Homo sapiens: one gene and its partners. The protein of the gene in region 2 interacts with the protein of the main gene of each other region in a pairwise test. Each region holds a gene or a part of one and is shown on either strand. Other genes may lie near its edges. The genes, in order: CLCA1, KCNMB1 and STX8.

Region 1 (7,545 bases), on a different chromosome or scaffold from region 2:
GGGTCATTGCAGGAGCAAAGTCCTTGCGGGAACAGACCAGAGTGACTAGACTCCATTGCCTAGTGGGGGTCGTGTTAGGAGCAGAAATGCTTCACCATTTTATGGGGAAGCAGCACTTGGGTGTTAGTGCACGGGTAAGTCCTGCTGTGCCTCTTCCTAAGGGGTAAACTTAAAGAACTTATTTTACTTCTCTGAGCCTCAATTTCTCCCTTTCAAATAGTGATAATAATGGTTGCCTCTATTTTTTTAAGTGTTCTTAATGATTTACATTTTCTCCTTCTAAAACTCCCAGATTTTTAACACTCACTAGGAGAGTTTAATATTATGTCACTTTAAAAAATAAAATTAAAAAATGAGCCAAGATCACCAAAAACTTGAAAAGTAGGTATAAAACTTCATATATTAGAGTATTGTTTTACCATTTGACTTGTGAAATGTGAATTTCCAATGTCTCCCAGGAAGAATAAGTACCATGAAATGCTCTTGTCTTCCACATTGTAATAGAAACAATAATAAGGGATCTTTGTTTTGGCATCTGTTTCAGATTTTCAGAAAATGACCTCATATCCTAATACATATTTAGACTCTTAGGCTGAGAGAAGGTTGGGGGTGACAGTTTATAGAATGGGCTAGAAATTCCTTCAGGACAGGGACAGTATATTGACCACTGGACTTCTAGTACCTGACATAATTTAGATGCTCTGTAAATATTTGTTGAATGAATAAACAAACAAATGGATAAATAAAGTGGGTTTAGTAAATGGCAAAGTGGTATAGAACTGCCAAGACAGGCACAGTGCCTGGGGTGCTGAGCATTGCAGAGACTCCAAAATAACCCTACTGTGTACCTTCTGACGTGCGTGTGTGCGTGTATGTCTGCGTGTGTGCATGGGCGTGTGTGTGTGCACACGAGCTTGTGCGTGTGGTGTGTGTGTATGTATATTTGACGGGGGAAGAGAGAGTTTCTCTCTGACTCTCCCTTCCTCATCTTGTGACGTGTACTCCCCCTGCTAATATTAGCAAGAATGCAGTGGATGGAAGTGGTGCAGAGCGATTAACTGCTCTTGTAGGTGGGGAAATCTGGGGACTGTCCTGCTGAAGCAAATATTTTAAAAGCTGAGTTAGGGGCTTCTGTCCCCACAGGGGCACCAGGGGAGAGTCTCTCATCAGCAAGAAGGTTGTTGGAGTAGAGGGAGGAATGGTTGGGAAAGGTGGCCAAGCCCTCAACGAGGTCCCTCAACTCTGCAGATCTGGAACATCAAATAGGAAGGAGTTAGGGACTTTGAGCATTCTATTCACTAAAGTGTTCTTGTTACAGAGAAGGAAATGATGGAAGCCAACTTATCTCACCCCCAACTTTAGGATCCATACTGGAAAGACAATTTAATAATTGTAGCGAGAAGTACGTATCTCGGGAGGAAAACCTCCAAGGACAATGAAGTAGAAGCACTTTGAAAGCTCTAGTCACTATATACTGTAGATACAAATTACCACGGTCACTGAAGATGAATACGGCATCTACATTCTCCTTCTGGCATATTGCTGAACCCCACTGTCTAGCCAGAGACTGAAACACACTGGTCACATGTTTGCTGATGCCACTTCCAAATTTAGAAACAATCAAAAACTCACTCAACATTTTAGATGATTGAGAGATTCAAGAGGTCTGAATCTCCCTTTTACCACAGACAGCCTGATCCTCTTTGGGTTAAGTAGGTAAGCTTTATGGTGAGTGACACCCTCCACTCTGTTCCCTATCCCTATCCCCTACTGCTGCAATTCTCTAACCACACACTGTAGAGATGGTTTTCTTTCCAAACATTATCTTTCTATATTTGCCTCTGCTTAGAGCAGTGGATCTCTGGGGAAATCCCTCTGGGCCCTTGTTCTATTAATTTTCCATCTAGAGAGAGCCAATGACTATATCCACCATTTATTGAGCTCTTACTATGTACCAGGCACTATGCATGCATTTTTAAAGTTATTTTTTAAAGTTCTGAGATAAATTTAGATGAACAGAAGACATGCAAAGTATTGCACCGTATTCTTACATACTCCACCCAGCTTCCCTTTATATGCATGCATTTTAAACTTTGATCCTCACAAAATCTGATAAGGGAGATATTTATTATTATTATTCCCATTTTACAGACTAATACTGTTACTAGTACAGCACTGCCTCTGGATGTGTTACAGCCAGATTCCAGGGCGGTCTTTTATAAAGCATTTCCCTCTTAGTTTTAGCTGTTTGTTGTTGTACAAGACCTTCTTCAATGGTATAGATACCCCTGCCAGGACAGGAAGTCTTCTTCCTTTCCCTTCTGCTACATAAGAGGTAGCAAGAAATCTCTGAAAGGATCCCTTGAATTGGGACTGATAAAATGCAAGGTTTTCTCCCATCAGAAGGTCAGGGTTGTTCTTATATCAGAGATTTGCATCTGGGGCTCCTTTTAGGATCACAGGGAAGGGGGTTCCTATTAGGAGAATAAAAGGAGAGTCTGACTCGTGCCAAGGGTAAAATCAGGCAAAGGATCTGTGCATCTCACAATATCTGTCAAATGTAGCTGACTCTGCCTTACTATAGAACTAAATAATTTTCAGTGACATAATCCACAGCAGTACATATCAATTTATCATTTATCAGTTGCCAACAGTATATCACTCTGAGTTATGTGCATTGCATTCATTATCTTATCTGACACAAGAATCCTAATGGTTAACTTGTTATTATTTCCATTTTACAGATGAAGAAACTGAGACTTAGACATAAAAATACATGCCAGTGTCGTGCAGCTGGAATAGGGCACTCATGTTCTCTCTATCACAACATTATGCTATTTTTAAAAAAGTATGGATAATTACTATGAACTTACCTTTATTTGTTGAATGAGTGTTTCATCTTCTGGCACATTGGGGTCGATTGCAACGACAATGCCTTCATAGCCATTGTTGTTCAGCTGAATGAGTGAATTACTCAGGGCCCCTTCTAGAAGGTGAAGAATCAAGATGAACACAGAACTCTTAAATGGCCCCATTGCTGTACATCTCCCTGTGATTTCTCTCTTTGGAAAATGCGGGTTACGAAGGTGTCTTTCTTTACCATTATATATATACAGATATGAAAATATAGACACACGTTTCCAACTTATCGGAAGTGGTTTATCACAGGTCTTTAACCCCCTGACCTGATGTGTTTTACTATTGCTCTTGTCTTCAATAGGAGAATGATAACAATATCTTAGTCTCAAATTGCGTACTTGTAAATATTTCCATCTGCCTTCAGCTGTGCCAGATGCTGGGGTAAGGGTGGGGGAGCCCACATCCGGTTCCTTGGAAGCACTCACAGGTGACAAGCAGCTTGGCCGCTGATAGGTTTGTTTACTTCTTGGAAATGTTTACCAAGCCATGGACACCAACCCACCCAAAGCCCCCAACCCCCTCCTGCCCAGGAAAATCCAGACTGTTCTGCTTATTCAGTAAACATTTTGTAAGCCATATATTCAGTTATCCCTCATGGTGGTCTTTACCACAATGGTGGTTTTGTTTACCTTGACATAACCTCAACACCTCTTCATGCTCCCCTTAAACAAGAAAATATTCAATTATATTCCACATCCATTTGTACCAAAAGCATTAGCAAGTGATGTAGATATTATTGACTATTTTATAATGGAGAGTAAAGATAAAATGTATATCTTACTTTGCAAAGCATACTCCAAGTTCCTCATCAGATTTCTGCTTTCTCTATTGCATAGCTCCTACCAGTCAATAAAATTCCAATTAACATCATTAAATTATTTTGCTGAAACTAAATGTCCCTAGGAACATGAATTATGGGCTGTCAGTGGCTGTGTATATTCTTTCAATTTGCCAAACCTCAGGTGGAACCTCAAATTGGCCCCCCATTTTCTTGTATTGAAATACTTGAAATATCTCTTCGTTCATAAATTCATTTGGTCTTCAGATGGTGATAAGCATTAATTTCATCTTGTCCATATGAACTTTAAAGTAGTTTTTTCCAATTCTGTGAAGAAAGGCATTGGTAGCTTGATGGAGATGGCATTGAATCTGTAAATTACCTTGGGCAGTATGGCCATTTTCACGATATTGATTCTTCCTATCCATGAGCATGAAATGTTCTTCCATTTGTTTGTATCCTCTTTTATTTCCTTGAGCAGTGGTTTGTAGTTCTCCTTGAAGAGGTCCTTCACGTCCCTTGTAAGTTGGATTCCTAGGTATTTTATTCTCTTTGAAGCAATTGTGAATGGGAGTTCACTCATGATTTGGCTCTCTGTTTGTCTGTTGTTGGTGTATAAGAATGCTTGTGATTTTTGTACATTGATTTTGTATCCTGAGACTTTGCTGAAGTTGCTTATCAGCTTAAGGAGATTTTGGGCTGAGACAATGGGGTTTTCTAGATATACAATCATGTCATCTGCAAACAGGGACAATTTGACTTCCTCTTTTCCTAATTGAATACCCTTTATATCTAGCATAATCTTAAGCAGTTAAAAGGGAAACACTGAAATAGAGTGGAAATGCTCAATTATAATGTGGTTGTCCAGATGATCCAAAATATGCTTTTATATCAAAATACATATACATTTATTATTCATACAAAATTTAAAAATGTAGATTCCAAGATATCTCAGACCCCAAATGTATGTGTCTTTGCCTGGGTTCCCTAAAAAACAGAGCCTAAGGCAGGCATATGTGCTAAGAGTTTGAGAGTTTAATCCCAGAGCAGTGAGAATGAGGGAATGGGGAAATGAGTCAGGGAAGGCTGGGAAGCAACTAAAGGAGGAGCATTACTAAGCCCTGCAATGGAGACACCCAGCAGGCCAGCCCACAGGCGCCCTTGCCTTCCTGTGTGGGTTGTCTCCTAAGGGGCTGTGCAAAGAAACCACGCCTTGGAGCAGCCCTTTGGAGAGAGGAAGGAAAAGCGTTTGGCTCCTTCTCATCTTCTACAGGTGATCATCTCCCCCCAGACTTCCTGGCTGTGTCATCCAGCCCTTTCGGCAGTCGCTTAGAAAGAGAGACCCCCATGCCTTGTGGTATGTGAGGAGCCAGGGGTTACAAGAGGTGGCAGCTTGACCTCAGGCAGTGGAACTGCTTGGACCTGCAAGGAGTGGATAGTGACTGAGGTGGAGCAAATGACTGAGTGCCCGGTAGACAGATGGAACCAAGCAAATCTGAGGAGGTTCAATAAGAAGAGTCTGATACAGTTCACTCTGAGCTGCTCAGATTCACTCTAGTACTTTCATCATATCAAGCTCCAATATTATAATGTAGGATTTGTGTTTCTGTGTGTGTGAGCACTAGCTGTCTCACTTTTCCCCTGAGAGAAGGTACAAGTTTAATCATTTACAGAATCTCCTTCAAAGTGGTGGTCAATTGCAATCTGCTCAAGTGCATAAGGCAAGAAGGTTATTGAAATAAATTGCAATGCCTGCTGTTACAGCTGGTCTCAAGGCTTTTATAATCTCCCTCCTTTATCACCTATTTCCCTCACTTTTACTCAGCATTTTGGTTGATCTGTATTGTTTGTTCTCTTGTTGGGGTAATCCCACCCTTCATCCCTGAGTGGGGTCTTTAGTTGTCCTGCCCTTGTTGGCTGCAGCTGCTGCATTTCCCTATGACAGAGGTCATCTGGTGTGACAGACTCAGTTTAAGTGCTCTCCAAATTTGCTTGGCATTCCCTGCAAGCTGGGTCTTGGCTGCTTGCTCAGTGGAGAGTCCTGGCTGCTGCTAAAATTCACACATCTCCTAATACCAGTGTTTCTTCTTAGCTTTCCCCAGGAAGAGGGCCTAGTTTAGCATGGCCTTCACTGTGCAGATTGTGGGGGCAGCTCCTCCATTCTCTCCCGTTCCCAAGTCTGGATTGAATGGATGTGTGGAGGCTTTTGGCTCAGATAAATCACTGCACCATGGTACTGGGATCTGGCTTTGTCAGAGGCAGCCCAAATGGGCCAAATAACAGAAACCAGAGATGCAGGGAGTTAGCACCCTAAGGGACAACCTTTCACCAAAGAATATTTCCAGCATTCTAGAAGTTTCCTTTGCATTCCCTTCCAGTAAATCCCCCCAAAAGATAATTGCTATTCTGACTTCTATGCCACATAGGTTAATTTTGCCTGTTTTTGAACTTCATATAAACAGAAATATGCTGTATGTACTCTTGCATTTCGCTATTGTGACATAACATTTTCTATATGAGATTCAGCCAAGTTGTTGAATGTAGCAGTAATATGTTCTTTTTCCATTCCATTCCACTGTAAAAAATACTGCAATTTACTTACCACCCACTCTTGATGAACATTTGGACTATTTCCAGTTTGGGACTATTATGAATGAAGATGCCATAGATGTAAGCATTGATTTCAGTTGCAAATATACAAAGAGTGACATTGCTGGGTGACAGGGTATACATCTATCTAGTGACAAAGACTCCCTCCTTTGACCAAAACTTAAGTCAGGATCCTGAGTCTTCTCTGACTAGGTCTGACCTTGGGCTTCCCTCTCTGTCCTTGCAGAATCCAGTTTGAGCAAGAATCCTGCTAAGTCAGTTTAGGGAAAATCCCCACGTTTGGTATCTGACCATTCTCAGCATCTTTCCACCATGGCCTGCCTTCAGCAATAACCCTATCAAGTCAGTTTAGCCAGACATTCCTTATCCTTGATGTTTCCTCATAGGCATTTTTCATCCACTGACCCCACCCTTCTCCTTGGTTATAAATTCCCACTTGTCCTTATTGGAGTTGGAGTTAATCTACTTTCTCTCCCCAACTGCAAGACCTCCTTGCAATGGTCCTTGTACCTATCACCATGCCTCCCACCCCTTACCATCTTTAACAAGTGTTTGCATGAAGTTTTTCTTTGATACTAGATTATGTTGATCTCCCAAATACTTTTCAAGTGGTTGTACAAGTTATTCCACATTTCCACCAGTACATTGTACTGTCAGTCTTTCTAACTATCCATTTTCTTGGGAGTGTAGTCATATCGTTCTGTGGTTTTGATTTGCATTTTCCCTAATGGCTAATGTTGTTAAAGACCTTTTTATATACATATTGGTCTTTTGTGAAGTATCTCTTCAAGTTTTTTTTTTTGCACAATTTTTAATTAAATTGTCTTTTCTTATTGATTTATGGGAGTTCTTTATATGTTCTGGATACTGAGTCTTTTGTATTGAAAGATATATTGAAAATATTTTCTCCTAGTTTGTAGCTTGCCTTAATAGTATCATTAGATGAATAGAGATTTTTAATTTTAGTACAGTCCAATTTAATCTTTTATGTATAATGTTTTTGTGTCATATTTAAGACAGCTTTCCCAAATTCATGAAGATATTATACAATATATGATTCTAGAAGCCTTGCTGCTTGACCTTTAACATTTAGGTATACTGATTGATCTCAAAATATTTTTGTGTATGGTGTGAGGAAAGGTTCAAGGTTTTTGTTTTGTTTTGTTTTCCTCTGTGATAGCCAGTAAGTTGAGAGTATTTATTGAAAAGACCATAATTTCCCCTACTGAATTACAGTT
Region 2 (7,991 bases):
GACCAGGGAGACAGCAATTAGAGTGATGTGACCACAGGCCAAGGAGTGCGTCAGAAGCTGGCGGGGGCAAGGAACAATGGCTCATCCCCCACGGCCACTGCAGGGAGTGCAGCCTGCAGACACCTTGGTGATTTTGGACTTCTGGTGAAATTTCTGTCGTTTGAGGCCGTCAGGTTTATGATCATTTGCTACAACAGTCATAGGTCCCATGCGGTGAGCGAGCAGTACATGTGCATCATCCATGCACCTCCTTCCACGGCACTTATCTCACAGGGATACTTGGAGTATTTCTGCCCAGAAACAGTTCTGTGGCAGGGCTAGCTGGGCCGGGCACAGGCAGGGAAAGGAGAGGAGGGCCCCAGAAGGCAGCTGCAGGTTGTCAGGAGAGGCAGGAGGTTTACCATATTCCGGTGTTTTTTTTTTTTGTAAGGAACATTCCCCTACTTCAAGCAAAGAAAGAAGAAAGAAGGCATCATGGTGGCCTCAGCGACTGCTTTCTTATTTCAGGGCTTGAAGCCACCTGGGACAAAGCAGAATGGGCACATTCTGCTGGTGGTTGCTTTCCTTCTCTCCTCTTTCTTTAGGCAGCAACTCCTTGTTTTTCCCCTGGACATTGACTCCACCCCAATGCAAGCAAAGATTCCACCCTCCCCTGCTAGGCTCCTGATCGCTCCCCCAGGAGTGTGAGTCTTGACAAAGACTTCAAGAAACAGCCCCTCAATCTATGCCGCCTGGAGCCACAGAGATGCCCAGCCATGGTCCCCGCGTGATTTCCCATGGTTCCGCAAGCTGTCCTAGAGCCTCTGGTAAATTTATTTGCTGTTGTTTTTATTTGTTTAAAGTAACCAGAGTCCATTTCTACCAAAAATACCAGGAAGCTATCAATGTAATCCTCCATTTTAGGGGAAATTTTAGGGGAATTTAGGGGAAATTTTAGCCAGATATCAGGGGGACTTTATTCTCCTTGCCAGGTCCCTAAAGTAATAAACATATTATGGTTTTTGTTTGTTTAATTAGCCAGTGTCCGGGTGACAGGCCTTAGTCCAAAGAGATTTTCTGCAAAGTGCTCTATTTTCTGCTCAGGCGTCTCTTAACTACTAGACTGTTTCAAATATTCAGAGATTCTTGACTCCCTCCCCTTAGCCAGGCTGCCCTCATACCCGGGCATCTCCGCTAAAGGGAAGAGACCAGGGTCAGGCACCACGGATACCCATCACACCTTCCCAGTGAGCTGGTCCACCTCCCCTATCGATCGGCAGAGGTGACATCCAATGACAACTTTTTCTCCTTTATTTGGCACCAGGAGGTGAGTTTCTCCTGCATTCTAATGGAGACATTATAAAAGCACAAGCAAGCAGAAATTGCCCCCGACAAAGAGAGATGTTTTATTCAACTCTTTTTATTCAATCCTTTTCCTCCTGTTCTGTGATCTTGTGGGAATGGGAGAGCCCATGCCTTTTTCTACCTGGCGTCAGTTGAACAAGACTCTCCATGTATTCACAGGTAAAGCAACAGAATCACCTGGAGGTAAGCTAAAAGCCCCAACAGCCTGCTTCCCCAGGACCTGCAAGGGTCACTGGCACTTGGCCCCACCCCAGATACTGTGAGACATAAATCATTTGAAGCCAATGGGAAATCCCATCTTGGAAGCCTAGGGCTGAGTGCCCACAACAAAGCCATTTCTCTCCTGGGGGAACTGGATCGCACCTGTGGGGGCTTCCTGTGGCTCCTTCCTGGCTAATCAGCCCCCCCCAGCGCCCAGGGCCATGGCCTCCTCTGCTATTTGGCTTCTAGTGCCCTCTCAGGCCCCTGGGCACTCCTGAGGCTGGTGAAGGCAGGAACCTGGTTTTACCAGTTTTAGGAGCTCAGAAGGAAAGGAAAGGAGAGGCTTCCCTGTCACAGAGAAGTCTGGAAACTTGGCTTATTCAGGTCTGACCCGTCTCTAATGGTCTGATGAGATTGTTGCCTGCACTGAGTGAGTTTATAGAGTCATGATAAATCCTCCTAAGACCATGCGTGGGGTTCAGTGTAGATATGACTTCAGCAAGAAGTTAGTATTCAGCATCCAAAGGGAGAACCTTTGGCGGGAGGAAGGATGGGAACTGTCAATATCCCCCAAGGGACAGAAAGAAAAGGAAGAAGTGGGTTTCAGCTATCATAGGAGGGATTTCAGTTAGACTGTAAGAAGAACTTCCCAGTTTTGAGCATTTCTAAATATCTCTGAAGTTCCAGGATATATCTTCCCATTTAGAAAGGTCACTTGAGATCTGGGATAGATTCAGAGAAGATGGAGAAGGACAAAGGAAGGCAGGACTTTGGAGTGTCCTGGGTGACCTGATAGCTGGGTCGACATCCTTTTCCTTAGAAGGACAAGGAATAGAGTACATTGTTGAACAGTTTGGTGGGGTGTGGACAGGGCGATTCTGAGGTCCTCAGACATGGAATCAAATCCTGGCTCTGCCACTTACACTTAGCAACCACATGACTGTGAAACGAGAACCATGGTACCTGCCTCAGAGAGTTCAGCTAAAGATCAAATGCCATATTGAGTATCAGACATGTATCATAGCACCTAGCCCCAAATCAGCCCCCAGTAAATATTAGCTATTACTACTAACGAAGGAAACCCTGAAAGTTTGGAGCAGAAGTCTGGACCCCTCTTGATGAATCTATTTTTGTCCCACCTCTCTACCGGTGACAAGTGCCAGCATTGGTGTTAATCTCCAGGCTGCAGCCTTCTGGCCACTCTGAGAACTGGGACCTAGAGGGCCAGGGCGCTTACTACCAGAGTAACCTGGCCACTGTGCCACCCTCCCCACTGGCCACCAGACCACGGGCCCTCCATCCAGAAGGACAGCCCCGAGAGGAAGGGAGTCCTCCTGCCTGCCTCCCTCCCTGCCCCGTGGCAGGCTGCTTTCCCCTGTCTCCCTCCAGCCCGGTCTTCAGAGAAATCACTTCCCAAGTGCTTTCAGGCCCGGTACTCACAGTCTTCCCGGCGTCCTGTGGGTCTTGAGCAGCAGACAGTTTCTTTCTGCCTGGACCCCCGCCCCCACCCCAAAAGAGGCCACAGAGCTTCAGCAGGAAGTTTGGCCTCCCCGCCCGTCTCCAGGGAAGCAGCTTTTGGTCCCCATCTGGGGCAAGCCTCCATGCCCAAACATGGTCAAGTCTGAGCACACAGCCTGGAGACACAGACTCGGAGAGCAGGTACCCAGCCCTGAGGAAGGCAGCTGTTACCCAAGCCCTGCACCTCCATCTTCCCAGAGTCTCGTGGGAAACAGATTTCAAACAACAACAGACAGCAAGACTGAGAAACTACGAAAGATCAGCCTGGTATATTTGGAAATATTTCTTCTTCTCTCTGTCTCTGTGGGCTGGCAAAGATGCCAGAAATAGGAAATGATTCTCCTTTTGTTGGCATGAGGAAGGGTGGAGTTGGGCTGGAGGGGTTGGGCTTGTCACTAGTCCCTGGCATATCCACGCTGGAGCAGCTACAGCTCCCTGCCTTTGGCACTTACGTGCTGTGTGACCCTGAGCAAGTTATGGCACCTCTCTGGGCCTCAGTTTCCTTTTTTGTTTTTGGTTTTACTCCCAAACTTATCGTTAAATGACCTCAGTTTTCTCACTTGTGTTACTGGCATTTTTAAAACCTACTTTGCTTTAGGGTAGTGATGGGAGTTAGAGACGGTGGGGATTTATGGCAAGGGGAGAGAACTGACTTTTTAAGGACCAACTGAGCTGAAGCTGGGAGTAGTGAGAGCTCCACAACTGCTTCCAACCAGGTCCAGGGACAGTCTGCTCACCAGGGGCCCTCCCAGAGACCGCGAAAGTACAGAGATTTCTTCCTAGCAATAAGACAAGTGAATGTCAGCATTTGCAGGCAAAAAACATGCTTTTAGATCTCTGCTTCTTCATCTGTAAAGTGGAAGTAAGGATTAAAAATCAGCAACAAAGGGCAGGCACAGTGGCCCACGCCCATAATCCCAGCACTTTGGGATGCCAAGGTAGATGGATTGCTCAAGCCCAGGAGTTTGAGACCATCCTGGGCAACATGGCGAAACCCCATCTCTACTAAAAATACAAAAATTAGTCGGGCATAGTGGTGCATGCCTGTGGTCCCAGCTACTTGGGAGGCTGAGGCAGGAGAATCGCTTGAACCTGGGAGGCGGAGGTTGCAGTGAGTCAAGATTGTGCCACTGCACTCTAGCCTGAACAGAGCGAGACCCCGTCTCAAAAAAAAAAAACAAATATATATATATATATATATATTTTCAACAAAACAACAAAAACAATCCCAGATATTGGGGCTTTCCTAAGTATCAGGCGTGGTGGTAGAAGGCAGCTTATCTCCACCCTTCACTTGACCCAAGAATCAAAGAACCTGAAACTGAGACTTGGAGGCTTGAAGTCACTGGTGCAACCCTAGGGGCCAGAACTAGATTCGAAGCTGGCCCTTCCAGATGGCACAGCTTGGTCTGTCTCTGATGACCCTGGGGCTGCTCTGAGACATTAAAAATCACCTCGATCATACAGTAAGCTGCCACCTGAGGCTCTGGAGGTCACCCTGAGTTTCCCCAGCCCCCAGGGAGGTGGGTGCAGCCTGGCCTTCCCTGCTGAGCGAGCTCACCACCTTCCTCCCTCCTGCCTCCAGCAGGCGCGAAATGAAGGCAGCCACTCAGGCCTCCCTGACACACTCTCAGGCGGTGAGTGCCCTTCTCCACCCCTTTCCTAATTGAATCTTATTAACAGGAGACTACAGTGTCTGTTTAATGGGCACCATAGCACCAGAGGGTCTAAGACCAGCTTCAGACCTTGCAGGCAGATTGACAGAGGGATGTAGGATCTGGAATTCAATCTCAGAAGAGCAATTTTCCAAGGATGATCCTCTGTCCACTCAGAAGCAGGAAAAGTCCTCCTGGGGCTAATCCAGAAATGCCAGGCCCCCCTCCTGCTTCCCTGGGGGAGAGATACACAGTGCAACAGGCTGCCATTTATGAGTATAACCGAAGGGCTCCTTGCTCGTGATACTCTGAATAAGTTATTAAGGGCTACATATTATTTGGAAATCATAAACAAACTTTAGCATTCTTCCCAAGGGAAGGTGGGAACAAACAGGGAAGGGGGGCCGTGGGGTCTTCTGCTCCCCCTAAATGAGCCACAACCAAAAGGCATTGACAAGCCCTGTCCTCGAGGGTTTGTGGGTGAAAACCCAGGTCCTTTGCTGGCTGCGGGGTTGTGTGTGACAGATGGCTACAGGTGGAGGGCAAGAAAATAACAATGCTGCAACAATAAATATTGACGGTTTGCATTAGTACGGGGTGTCAGAGATCACAAAATATCTTCTCTGACTCTTCCAACAGCTTCTTAAGGTACTAGCACAATAGGCTCACAATAGACCACTGAGGTGGAGATTTTTCTACCCATTTGATAGAGGGAGTAACTGAGCCTCAGAGAGGTGAAATAAATTGCCCAAGCAAGTTACTTTGCCTCTCTAAGCTTCAGTTTGTCTGTCTCTAAAATAGAGATAATTATACCTAGCCCCTCAGTGTTTTTGAGGAATGAGAGATCACCTAAGCTACCTGACACATAGTATGGAGATTGTCCTTTCCAAAGATGGTCACACCAAATACTTCCCATTCCATGTGCCCTTTTCACAGTGTGGCATCAACACTCCACCATCAAGAGGGGCATTGATGTCTCTTCCCCTTCACCCTGGGTGGAGCTTCGTAAGGGCCTCAATAGTAGAATATGGTAGAAGGACACAGCACGATGTTCAAGGCTAAGTCATAGACGGGGGCTCGAGTTCCCCCCACACGCTCTCGGGACATGTACCTGGGAACCAGCCACCATGTTGTAGGAAGCCGAGGCCCCGTGCTCCAGCTGACAGCCTCAGCTCAGATCTCAGCCAACAGCTAGCAAATCTCACCGGGCATGGGAGAGAACAAGCCTGCAGACAGTTCCAGCCCCCAGCCTGCCAGCCTCCCAGCTGAGGCCTCAGAGAATGTGGAGCAGAGACAGCCCACCTGCTCTGTGCTCTCTCTGAATTCCAGAGCCACAAAATCCACGAGAAGAAAAAAACTAATGTTTCATGCCCCTGCGTTTTGGGGTAATTTGTTATGCAGTCATAGTAACTGGAACACACTTGCAAGTGATTTCAAAGGGGGACTGTTACAGTTGCTGGTGATAGTGGTAGGATTAAACCAGTGAGAATTAAAACACCTGAGATTGCTATATGGAGTGTTACAGGAGAGTTTAGAAATGCTTTATCTAGGTAGGGCATGGTGGCTCATGCCTGTAATCCTAGCACTTTTCGAGACCAAGGCAGGCGGTTCATTTGAGGCCAGTAGTTCGAGACCAGCCTGGCCAACATGGCGAAACCCCGTTTCTACTAAAAATACAAAAATTAGCTGGGCACGATGGCAGGTGCCTATAATCCCAGCTATTCTGGGAAGCCGAGGCATGAAAATCACTTGAATCCAGGAGGCGGAGGTCGCAGTGAGCTGAGATTGAGCCACTGTACTCCAGCCTGGGCGACAGAGTGAGACTCCATCTAAACCAAAACAAACAAACAAAAAAAGTGCTTTATCTACTCTTAGGTCACACACTATGGCACAAATGGAATAGAAGGGCAGTGATATGGGAGGGTATTTTTGTTTATGAAGCACCTACTATGTACCAGGGAATGACCACATAGATATGCAATACATACACATACACATACACATGGACATTCCTCTCCACAATCCCCCACAAAAGGCCTTGTTCTTTCTGTAAAAGCACAAGGCAAAGTGATTTTCCCAAGGTCACGCCCCTAGCGTGTGATGTGATGGAGCCTGGAGTGCACCTGTGCCCGCTGACTCCACAGCCCGTCCCTGCCCCTCTGTCACCCCATGACTCCCTTGGGAGCAGTTTTCAAGAGACCCCAGGTTTCTTCATGATGTCTGCTTCCACTGCTTTCCAGACACCCTCAGCTCAGTCTGTACCCCTCTCTGGATTATGCACCTGCTTGTTTATTTAAGTCTTTCTGAATCAATATCTCCTCTCTGCTGACACTTGGGATAATAAGTCCCATAAATCAAATTGGCAACTGAGTCTTGAGCCCCTGTGTGTGCCTCTCTGAGTGCTGCAGGGATGGGTGTTAGTCACTCTCAGTCCTAGCGAAGCTGTGCGTTCACAGACATCCCAGCACTTGCTATGCAGAGGCTCTGGATACACCACTGTGCCGAGGTGACTCAGACACGGTCCCTTCACTGCAGAAAAGCGATGCCAGATTTCCTCAACTACAAAAATACAGAACAGAAAGTGAAAGATGTGTTTTAAATGAGAGACAGTAATAAAAGGCAGAGGAAATAACGGTGGGAGGTTTTTTAGTAGAGTTGAGATGACAAAGTATAACAACAGCAAAAGTAAATGCCGATATTACAATTAAATGGTCACACAACAAGACACGACAAAAAACATGGTAAAGTTGTTCCCTGCTGTGTAGGGTGATACTCACTCCTTTTTCCTCTGACTCTTTTCACCATATTTTCCCTTGGCCTGATTTTTCTTCCTTTATCCTGCCATGCTGTTAACATAATTGTAAGCACCTTGAAAATCCTCTTTGAGACAAAGAGGAGCATAAATAAATAAACAGCCCTGCTGTCTGTCTGTGTGGTAAGGTTGGTTTTTTTAAAAAAATGCTTTTTCCTTAGTGCAAATCATCCCAGCTCTGTGGGAAAGTGGCATGATGTGGAAGTGCAGGGAGAAGATGAGGTACAGTGTTAGCCTCACTGCTCAGAGAGAGTTGCTGTAAGAGTGGTGGTGGCCTTTTCAACACACATAAAGGAAGCATGTGCCCTCTCCTTCCATGGCACATGTCTCCTCTGTCCTTGCCTCCTGGCCAGCTCTTCCTCTTCCACAGGACTCCCCGCTGGGGCCTTCCCTCGCCCCCAGCCCCTTAGCCACTCTCCGCGCCTCCTGGGCCAGGCGGAAGCTCTGCTTCCGCATGCTGG
Region 3 (7,106 bases), on a different chromosome or scaffold from region 2:
CAAGGCGGGCGGATCACGAGGTCAGGAGATCGAGACCATCCTGACTAATACGGTGAAACCCCATCTCTACTAAAAATACAAAAAATTAGTCGGGCACGGTGGCGGTGGGCGCCTGTAATCCCAACTACTTGGGAGGCTGAGGCAGTAGAATGGTGGAAACCTGGGAGGTGGAGCTTGCAGAGAGCCAAGATCACGCCACTGCACTCCAGCCTGGGTGACAGAGCGAGACTCTGTCTCAAACAAACAAACAAAAATTAACGAAAACTAAATTGAGTAGAAAATTATAGTCAAACACCATAAATGAATAGAATAGATTTTGATTAATTCCTAAAGTAAGCCATTCAGGAAACAGCTGTAGTATCTGCAAAGAAGTCTTCGCCCACCAAGTAATCCCTGTAAATAAAAACATCCTACCTGATTAGATCTGGTTCGGCACCCTCATTCTTAAAGGATGCCAGAAGTAGTCTCTCTCGAGTTACAAGATCATCCAAGAGGTTCTGTCTTCGGTCCCCTTCAAGCTGTGTTCTGCAGATATCTTGTTAAGGTTCAATGGTGAATAAATGACCTCGTTTTAACTATTACATTATTAAGTTAGCTCTTCAAGTCAGTTGTGGCTTTTACAGACTGTAATCACTACTACCCAGAAGGGATGCGCACCACTCTTGCGTTTTTCCTGCTCTGACCTTCACCTTCACCAGGCCGTCAGGTAAAGGACCTTGGCAGGACCATCGCAGAGGCACTTATAAACACTGACGTGGATCATGACACAAGTTTTTCATTGAGAAATATACCAGGTAAATATTACTTTCCTCCCCGTGACCAAACTTATTTACTTATTTTTGAGACAGAGTCTCGCTCTGTCGCCCAGGCTGGAGTGCAATGGCGCGATCTCGGCCCACTGCAACCTCTGCCTCCCGGGTTCAAGCAGTTCTCCTGCCTCAGCCTCCCGAGTAGCTGGGCTTACAGACGTGCACCACCACAACCGGCTAAGTTTTGTATTTTTATTAGAGACGGGTTTTTGCCATGCTGGCCAGGCTGGTCTCGAACTCATGACCTCAGGTGATCTGCCTGCCTTGGCCTCCCAAAGTGCTGGAATTACAAGGCGTGAGTCACCACGCCCAGCCCCAGTGACCAAATTTAAATGACTTCTCCTGCCAATGGTGCAACCTGGCTCAGTGATTCCTTAGGTTTTGAGTTATATGTGTGTGTCAGTGTTCCAGGGCATTTTCCTACATATTAATACCCTAAGATGCTCTGTTTAAAAAAGTGGGGGCGCTGGGGGAGAGAAGTTCTCTATATTGCTCTCTTTCTTCCATGTTAATATCTATTAACACACCTAGGATATTTATAAAGTGCTACTTTATGCAACAGATTTGCTCTATAAATTGTTACCATCAGTTCACTATTTAAATACATTGCATGATTTGTAAAGAAAATTACAAAGAGAATCATTTTAATGTGTGAATCTAGCAAACACGCTAGACTAGGAGCCCCAGAGGCAGAGTTGTAGCCCTATTCCACTATCTATGCTCTTGAACCAGTTATTTCACCTTTTGGGATCTCTCTTTCTTTATATGTAACACTAAATAGTCTCTAACATCTTTTCCACAACAATTCATAAGTGATGGTTAAAAAAAAAAAACCAAACAACCATCCTTCTGGGAAATGTAGTCTTTGGAAAGAAACCTACAATTCACCAATAGGTGGACGAGAATGCGGCGCGTGCGCATGAAGCAAAAAGGGAAGTGGCGTCTGTCAACAACCGGCGCCACTTCCCTTGGACTAAGTACAAAGTTTTATATACTAGCTTTCTTGATGCAAACTACAAAAGTGGTTTTTTTTTTTTTTTTTTTTTTTTGGAGACGGAGCCTTGTTCTGTCTACAGGCTGGAGTGCAGTGGCGCGATCTCGGCTCACTGCAACCTCCGCCACCCGGGTTCAAGCGATTCTCCTGCCTCAGCCTCCTGAGTAGCTGGGACTACAGGCACGTGCCACCACGCGCAGCTAATTTTTTGTATTTTTGGTAGAGACAGGTTTTCACCATGTTGGCCAGGATGGTCTCGATCTCTTGACCTCATGATCCGTTCACCTCAGCCTCCCAAAGTGCTGGGATTACAGGTGTGAGCCAGTGCGCCCAGACACAAGTTTTTGTTTGTTTGTTTTTAGGCTGAACTGTGTCTATGTGTGTGGTATGTTAAGAAACACAGAAGGGCTGGACGCGGTGGCTCAACGCCTGTAATCCCAGCACTCTGGGAGGCTGAAGTGGGCGGATCACAAGGTCAAGAGATGGAAACCATCCTGGCAAACACGGTAAAACCCCGTCTCTACTAAAAATATAAAAACTAGCCAGGCGTGGTGGCGTGCGCCTGTAGTCCCAGCTACTCGGGAGGCTGAGGCAGGAAAATCGCTTGAACCCGGGAGGCGGAGGTTGCAGTGAGCCGAGATCGCGCCACTGCGCTCCAGCCTGGTGAAAGAGCGAGACTCTGTCTCAAAAAAAAAAAAAAAAAAAAGAAAAAAGAAACACAGTAAAGGATATGTTTGGAAACAACTTCTGCCATAAAATGAATGAGTGGAGAAAGCTAACAAACACTTTTAAAATATATCTGGCCAGGTGTGGTGGCTTACGCCTGTAATCCCAGCAGGTCAAGGCAGGTGGATCACGAGGTCAGGAGTTCGAGACCAGCCTGACCAATATGGTGAAACCCCATCTCTACTAAAAACACAAAAATTAGCTGGGCATGGTGGCGCACAATCGCAGCTACGCAGGAGGCTGAGGCAGGAGAATCACTTGAACCCGGGAGGCGGAGGTTGCAGTGAGCCGAGACTGTGCCACTGCACTCCAGCCTGGGTGACAGAGCAAGACTCCGTCTCAAAAAAAAAAAAGAAAAAAGAAAAGAAAAGAAAAGAAATACACACTAAAACAAGATACCACTTCCACCTATCAGATTAGGAAACTGAGAAGACAGTTTTGGAAAGGGACAAGGAACCAGACACTCTCATACATTCTTTCCTTTTCTTTTCTTTTCTTTTTTTTTTTTTTGTTTTGTTTTGTTAAGATGGAGTCTTGCTCTATCATCCCAGGCTGAAATGCAGTGTTGCAACCTTGGCTCACTGCAACCTCCACTACCTGGGTTCAAGCAATTCTCCTCTCAGCTCCCCAAGTAGCAGGGATTACAGGTGTCCACCACCACACCCAGCTAATTTTTGTGGGTTTTTTTGAGAGACAGGATTTCACCATGTTGGCCAGGCTGGTCTCAAACTCCTAATCTAAAGTGACCCTCCTGCCTCCCAAAGTGCTGGGATTACAAGCATGAGCCACTTCACCTGACCTTATACATTCTTTCTTTATTATTATTATTATTTTTTGAGACAGTGTCTCCCTCTGTCGCCCAGCCTGGAGTGCAGTGGCATGATCTTGGCTCACTGCAACCTCCAGCTCCAGAGTTTAAGCAATTCTCCTGCCTCAGCCTCCCAAGTAGCTGGGATTACATGCACATGCCACCATGCCCAGCTAATTTTTGTGTTTTCAGTAGAGATGGGGTTTCACCATGTTGTCCAGGCTGGTCTCGAACTCCTGACCTCAAGTGATCCACCCACCTCGGCCTCCCAAAGTGCTGGGATTACAGGCATGAGCCACCATACCCGGCCACCTCATACATTCTTGATAGGAATGCAAACAGGTTCAACCAACTGCTAGACTGCCTTCTAAATACCTAACAAAATATAAAAGGTACAGTCTTTCAACAGACATTTCTTCCTCAGATACAGTCCTACAAGGACTTAGAAGCAAGGATGTCCACTGAACCATTATTTATAATAGCCACATTGGAAATATCAATAAGTAACTAGTGTATGTAAACAATGGAATGTTTTGCAGCCTTAAAAAAAGAATAGGAAAGCTGTTTAGGGGGCTGATAATGATAATTAACATTTTTGAGCACTTACTAAGTGTTTACATGAATTATTTGACATGGAATAATCTACAAAATATAACATTAAACCAAAGGAGGGGAAAAAAACAGCAGCAGCAAGGAGCTAAACAGTGAGTAGTGTGCTCCCACTTTGTTAAAAAAAAATCCTAACTATATATGTGTGTATATACACACAGAAAATTTCTGATATATAAACATTGCCTCTAAGGAAGGACAACTGAGGATTAAGGGTATAAGAGAGACTGATGTTTCACTGAATATTGTTTCCTAATGTTTGTCTCTATCATCTGCTAATTAATAAAAACACAAGCTTCAGAACCATATGTATAATATAATCCCTTTATAGTCAAAGGAATTTTATGTTTACATATGCATATATTTCAAGCCTAGAAAAGTCTGAGATACTAGCTACCAACCATTAACACTTAACTATAAAGAATGAGATGAGACAGGATAGAATAAGGAAGAGAAAGAGGAGTCATTGGTAATAACTAATGAGAAATGTATCAGTAGAAAGTATAATATTTTTTGTAATAAAAACAATAAAGGTACATTTTAAAATCAGCAGATACTAGTTACAGATTTAAACTTACGTCAAGAAGGAGCTAACAAAGAACATCAGTTTCAGAAACAGTAAAACTTGATGACTATGTTTTGTAGATGAGTAACCAAAGAACAGAAACCCACACAGTTGATGCTAGAAGAGGCCTTAAAGATCCCAGTTCTCTTGTTTTGCTGACCAGAAATTAAGGGTGAGCATGGCTAAGTCACTTGCCTGGGTTAACAGCCATGCTAGGTGACAGCTCTTTCAACCCTAGCTCATGGCTTTTCCACCAAACATTCTGCAGACTTCTCCACCTTGAGATGCTGACTTAACTTTGCCACTTCTTAGAATCCTGATAAAAACAATACTGGGAGTACGAATTCAGAATATTCCCAGAGACTCTGTAAATCTGGAAAACAATCCAATTAGGAACATGCTGCCTCTTTGTTTTATATTTTAATCTACGGAGAGAACAGAGCATAAGGAGATGGGGAGGAGGGAGATGGAATGAGAATAAATTGATTAATGAACCATCTGCATAGCACCCTTGCTATGTAAGGGTTGTTATTAGTAAGAGGTCAAAGGATCATCCAGGAAACAATCTATACAGCATGTATGTGGACAGGTGCGTAGCAGTTGGGTAAAGTAGGGTAGTGGGGAAACAGTGTGCCTGAGTGATGCTAAGGACAAGTAGAAAGTAGGACACACAGGCCAAGCGCGGTGGCTCAAGCCTGTAATCCCAGCACTTTGGAAGGCTGAGGCAGGCGGATCATGAGGTCAGGAGTTCGAGACCAGCCTGGACAACACGGTGAAACCCCATCTGTACTAAAAAAATACAAAAATTAGCTGGGTGTGGTGGCACACGCCTGTAGTCCCAGCTACTCAGGAGGCTGAGGCAGGAGAATCGCTGGAACCCGGGAGGCAGAGGTTGCAGTGAGCCAAGATCGTGCCACTGCACTCCAGCCTGGGCAACAAAGTGAGACTCCATCTCAAAAAAAAAAAAAAGTAGTACAGCACACAGTCAGTGGCCAGTGCTGGGGAACCTCCTCTTCCACCAACCTGGTGAATAGCCAAGGAAGAAGATAAGAGAACAGACAGATAAAGAAAAGGAAGAGAAGAGCTAACTATCATAGTACTTTGTCCTTGGCTATGCTGATTGTACATGTAATTATAGCCAATTCATGGATATGTAAGGTTGTAAATAAAACTGGATCCCCTGTAGTCCCAGCTACTCGGGAGGCTAAGGCAGGAGAATGGCGTGAACCCGGGAGGTGGAGCTTGCAGTGAGCCAAGATCGTGCCACTGCACTCGAGCCTGGGTGACACAGCGAGACTCCATCTCAAAAAATAAATAAATAAAAATAAAAATAAAACTGGATCCTGATTTCATATTACTGATACCTACTACCAGCATGCATAAGTCCAGCTTCTCTGCTGTAGCCTGGTGAGCATTTGAACCACAGATGGAGCGGGGTAAATATGCAACTGGATCCACAGGTCACCCAATCCCACTCCAGCTCCTGGATTTTCTCTTATATTTGGTAGAAGGCTTAAGAATTTAGGCTGGGCACAGTCGCTCACACCTGTAATCCCAGCACTTTGGGATGTTGAGGTGGGTGAATCACCTGAGGTCAGGAGTTTGAGACCAGCCTGGCCAACATGGCAAAACCCCATCTCTACCAAAAACACAAAAATTAGCCAGGTGTAGTGGTGCACACCTGTAATCCCAGGTACTTGGGAGGCTGGGGTAGGAGAATCGCTTGAACCTGTGAGGCGGTGGTTGCAGTGAGCTGAGATCGCACCATTGTGCTCCAGACTGGGCAACAAGAGTGAAACTCCGTCTCAAAAAAAAATAGAATTTAGGTAAGCCTTATTTTGTGAAAGAGCTGCTCTGGCGAAGGAAGAAGTTTGCAGATAATTAATTCTCCATGCCAAAAAAGAAGAACTGCAAGGGAACAGTTTAAGGTTCTAGAGGTCAAAAGACTTTTCTGGCTTTCTTTTTTTAAGTCAACAAACTCTAATAAATATTTATGATGTACCAGGCCAAGTCCTTACCTTCCTCAAAGCACTGATCACATTTTGCAAGTACTATTTTAATACCATCATTGTTTGTGAGTTTTGACATAACCATCATGCATGATTAAAAACTCCACAAAGAAAGGATGACCTGTAAATTCTCAATGGTAGCTGAAATCTTTACAATAATGATAAAATAATCAATAGCAGCTAATCCTCAAGGAGGACTTAGTATATGTGAAGCACCCTGTATGCATATAATCTCATCCTTACACAACAATCCTTTACGCCAGGTGGACTTCTAGCATCCCATTCCACAAATGAGGCACAAAGAGGTTAAGTAACTTCCCCAGGGGTGTTGGTAACCACCTTTTATTCAACACCCACCATTATGGGGGGCTAGTCCTGTGAAGAAAAAAGATTTTCTTCAACTTGTACAATAACCTGGCAAAGTATGATTATTCCTACATTACAGATAATGAAACTAAGGTCCAGAAAAGCTGAACTGCTGTTTGGCCTTGGTAAGTGGCAGAGCTGGTCTTCAATCTCAGTTCTGTCTGCTTTCAGAGCCGATGTTGTTCCCACGATACCAATGGCACCTAGACATTCAGGTTTC

What was found.
Region 1: the proteins of KCNMB1 (region 2) and CLCA1 interact in a two-hybrid assay, tested with the Homo sapiens proteins (one study listed by BioGRID).
Region 3: the proteins of KCNMB1 (region 2) and STX8 interact in binary tests that used the Homo sapiens proteins (3 or more experiments, as listed by UniProt).

Annotation. Positions count from the first base shown.
Region 1 is NC_000001.11:86,464,462-86,472,006, reverse strand, and holds the start of CLCA1 (calcium-activated chloride channel regulator 1 precursor), read right to left. Parts: upstream 3,081-7,545; 5' UTR 3,036-3,080; coding exon 2,874-3,035; intron 1-2,873. UniProt on the Homo sapiens protein: May be involved in mediating calcium-activated chloride conductance. May play critical roles in goblet cell metaplasia, mucus hypersecretion, cystic fibrosis and AHR. May be involved in the regulation of mucus production and/or secretion by goblet cells.
Region 2 is NC_000005.10:170,386,274-170,394,264, forward strand, and holds the start of KCNMB1 (calcium-activated potassium channel subunit beta-1), read right to left. Parts: upstream 3,095-7,991; 5' UTR 2,986-3,094; intron 1-2,985. UniProt on the Homo sapiens protein: Regulatory subunit of the calcium activated potassium KCNMA1 (maxiK) channel. Modulates the calcium sensitivity and gating kinetics of KCNMA1, thereby contributing to KCNMA1 channel diversity.
Region 3 is NC_000017.11:9,544,758-9,551,863, forward strand, and holds part of STX8 (syntaxin-8), read right to left. Parts: intron 526-7,106; coding exon 415-525; intron 1-414. UniProt on the Homo sapiens protein: Vesicle trafficking protein that functions in the early secretory pathway, possibly by mediating retrograde transport from cis-Golgi membranes to the ER.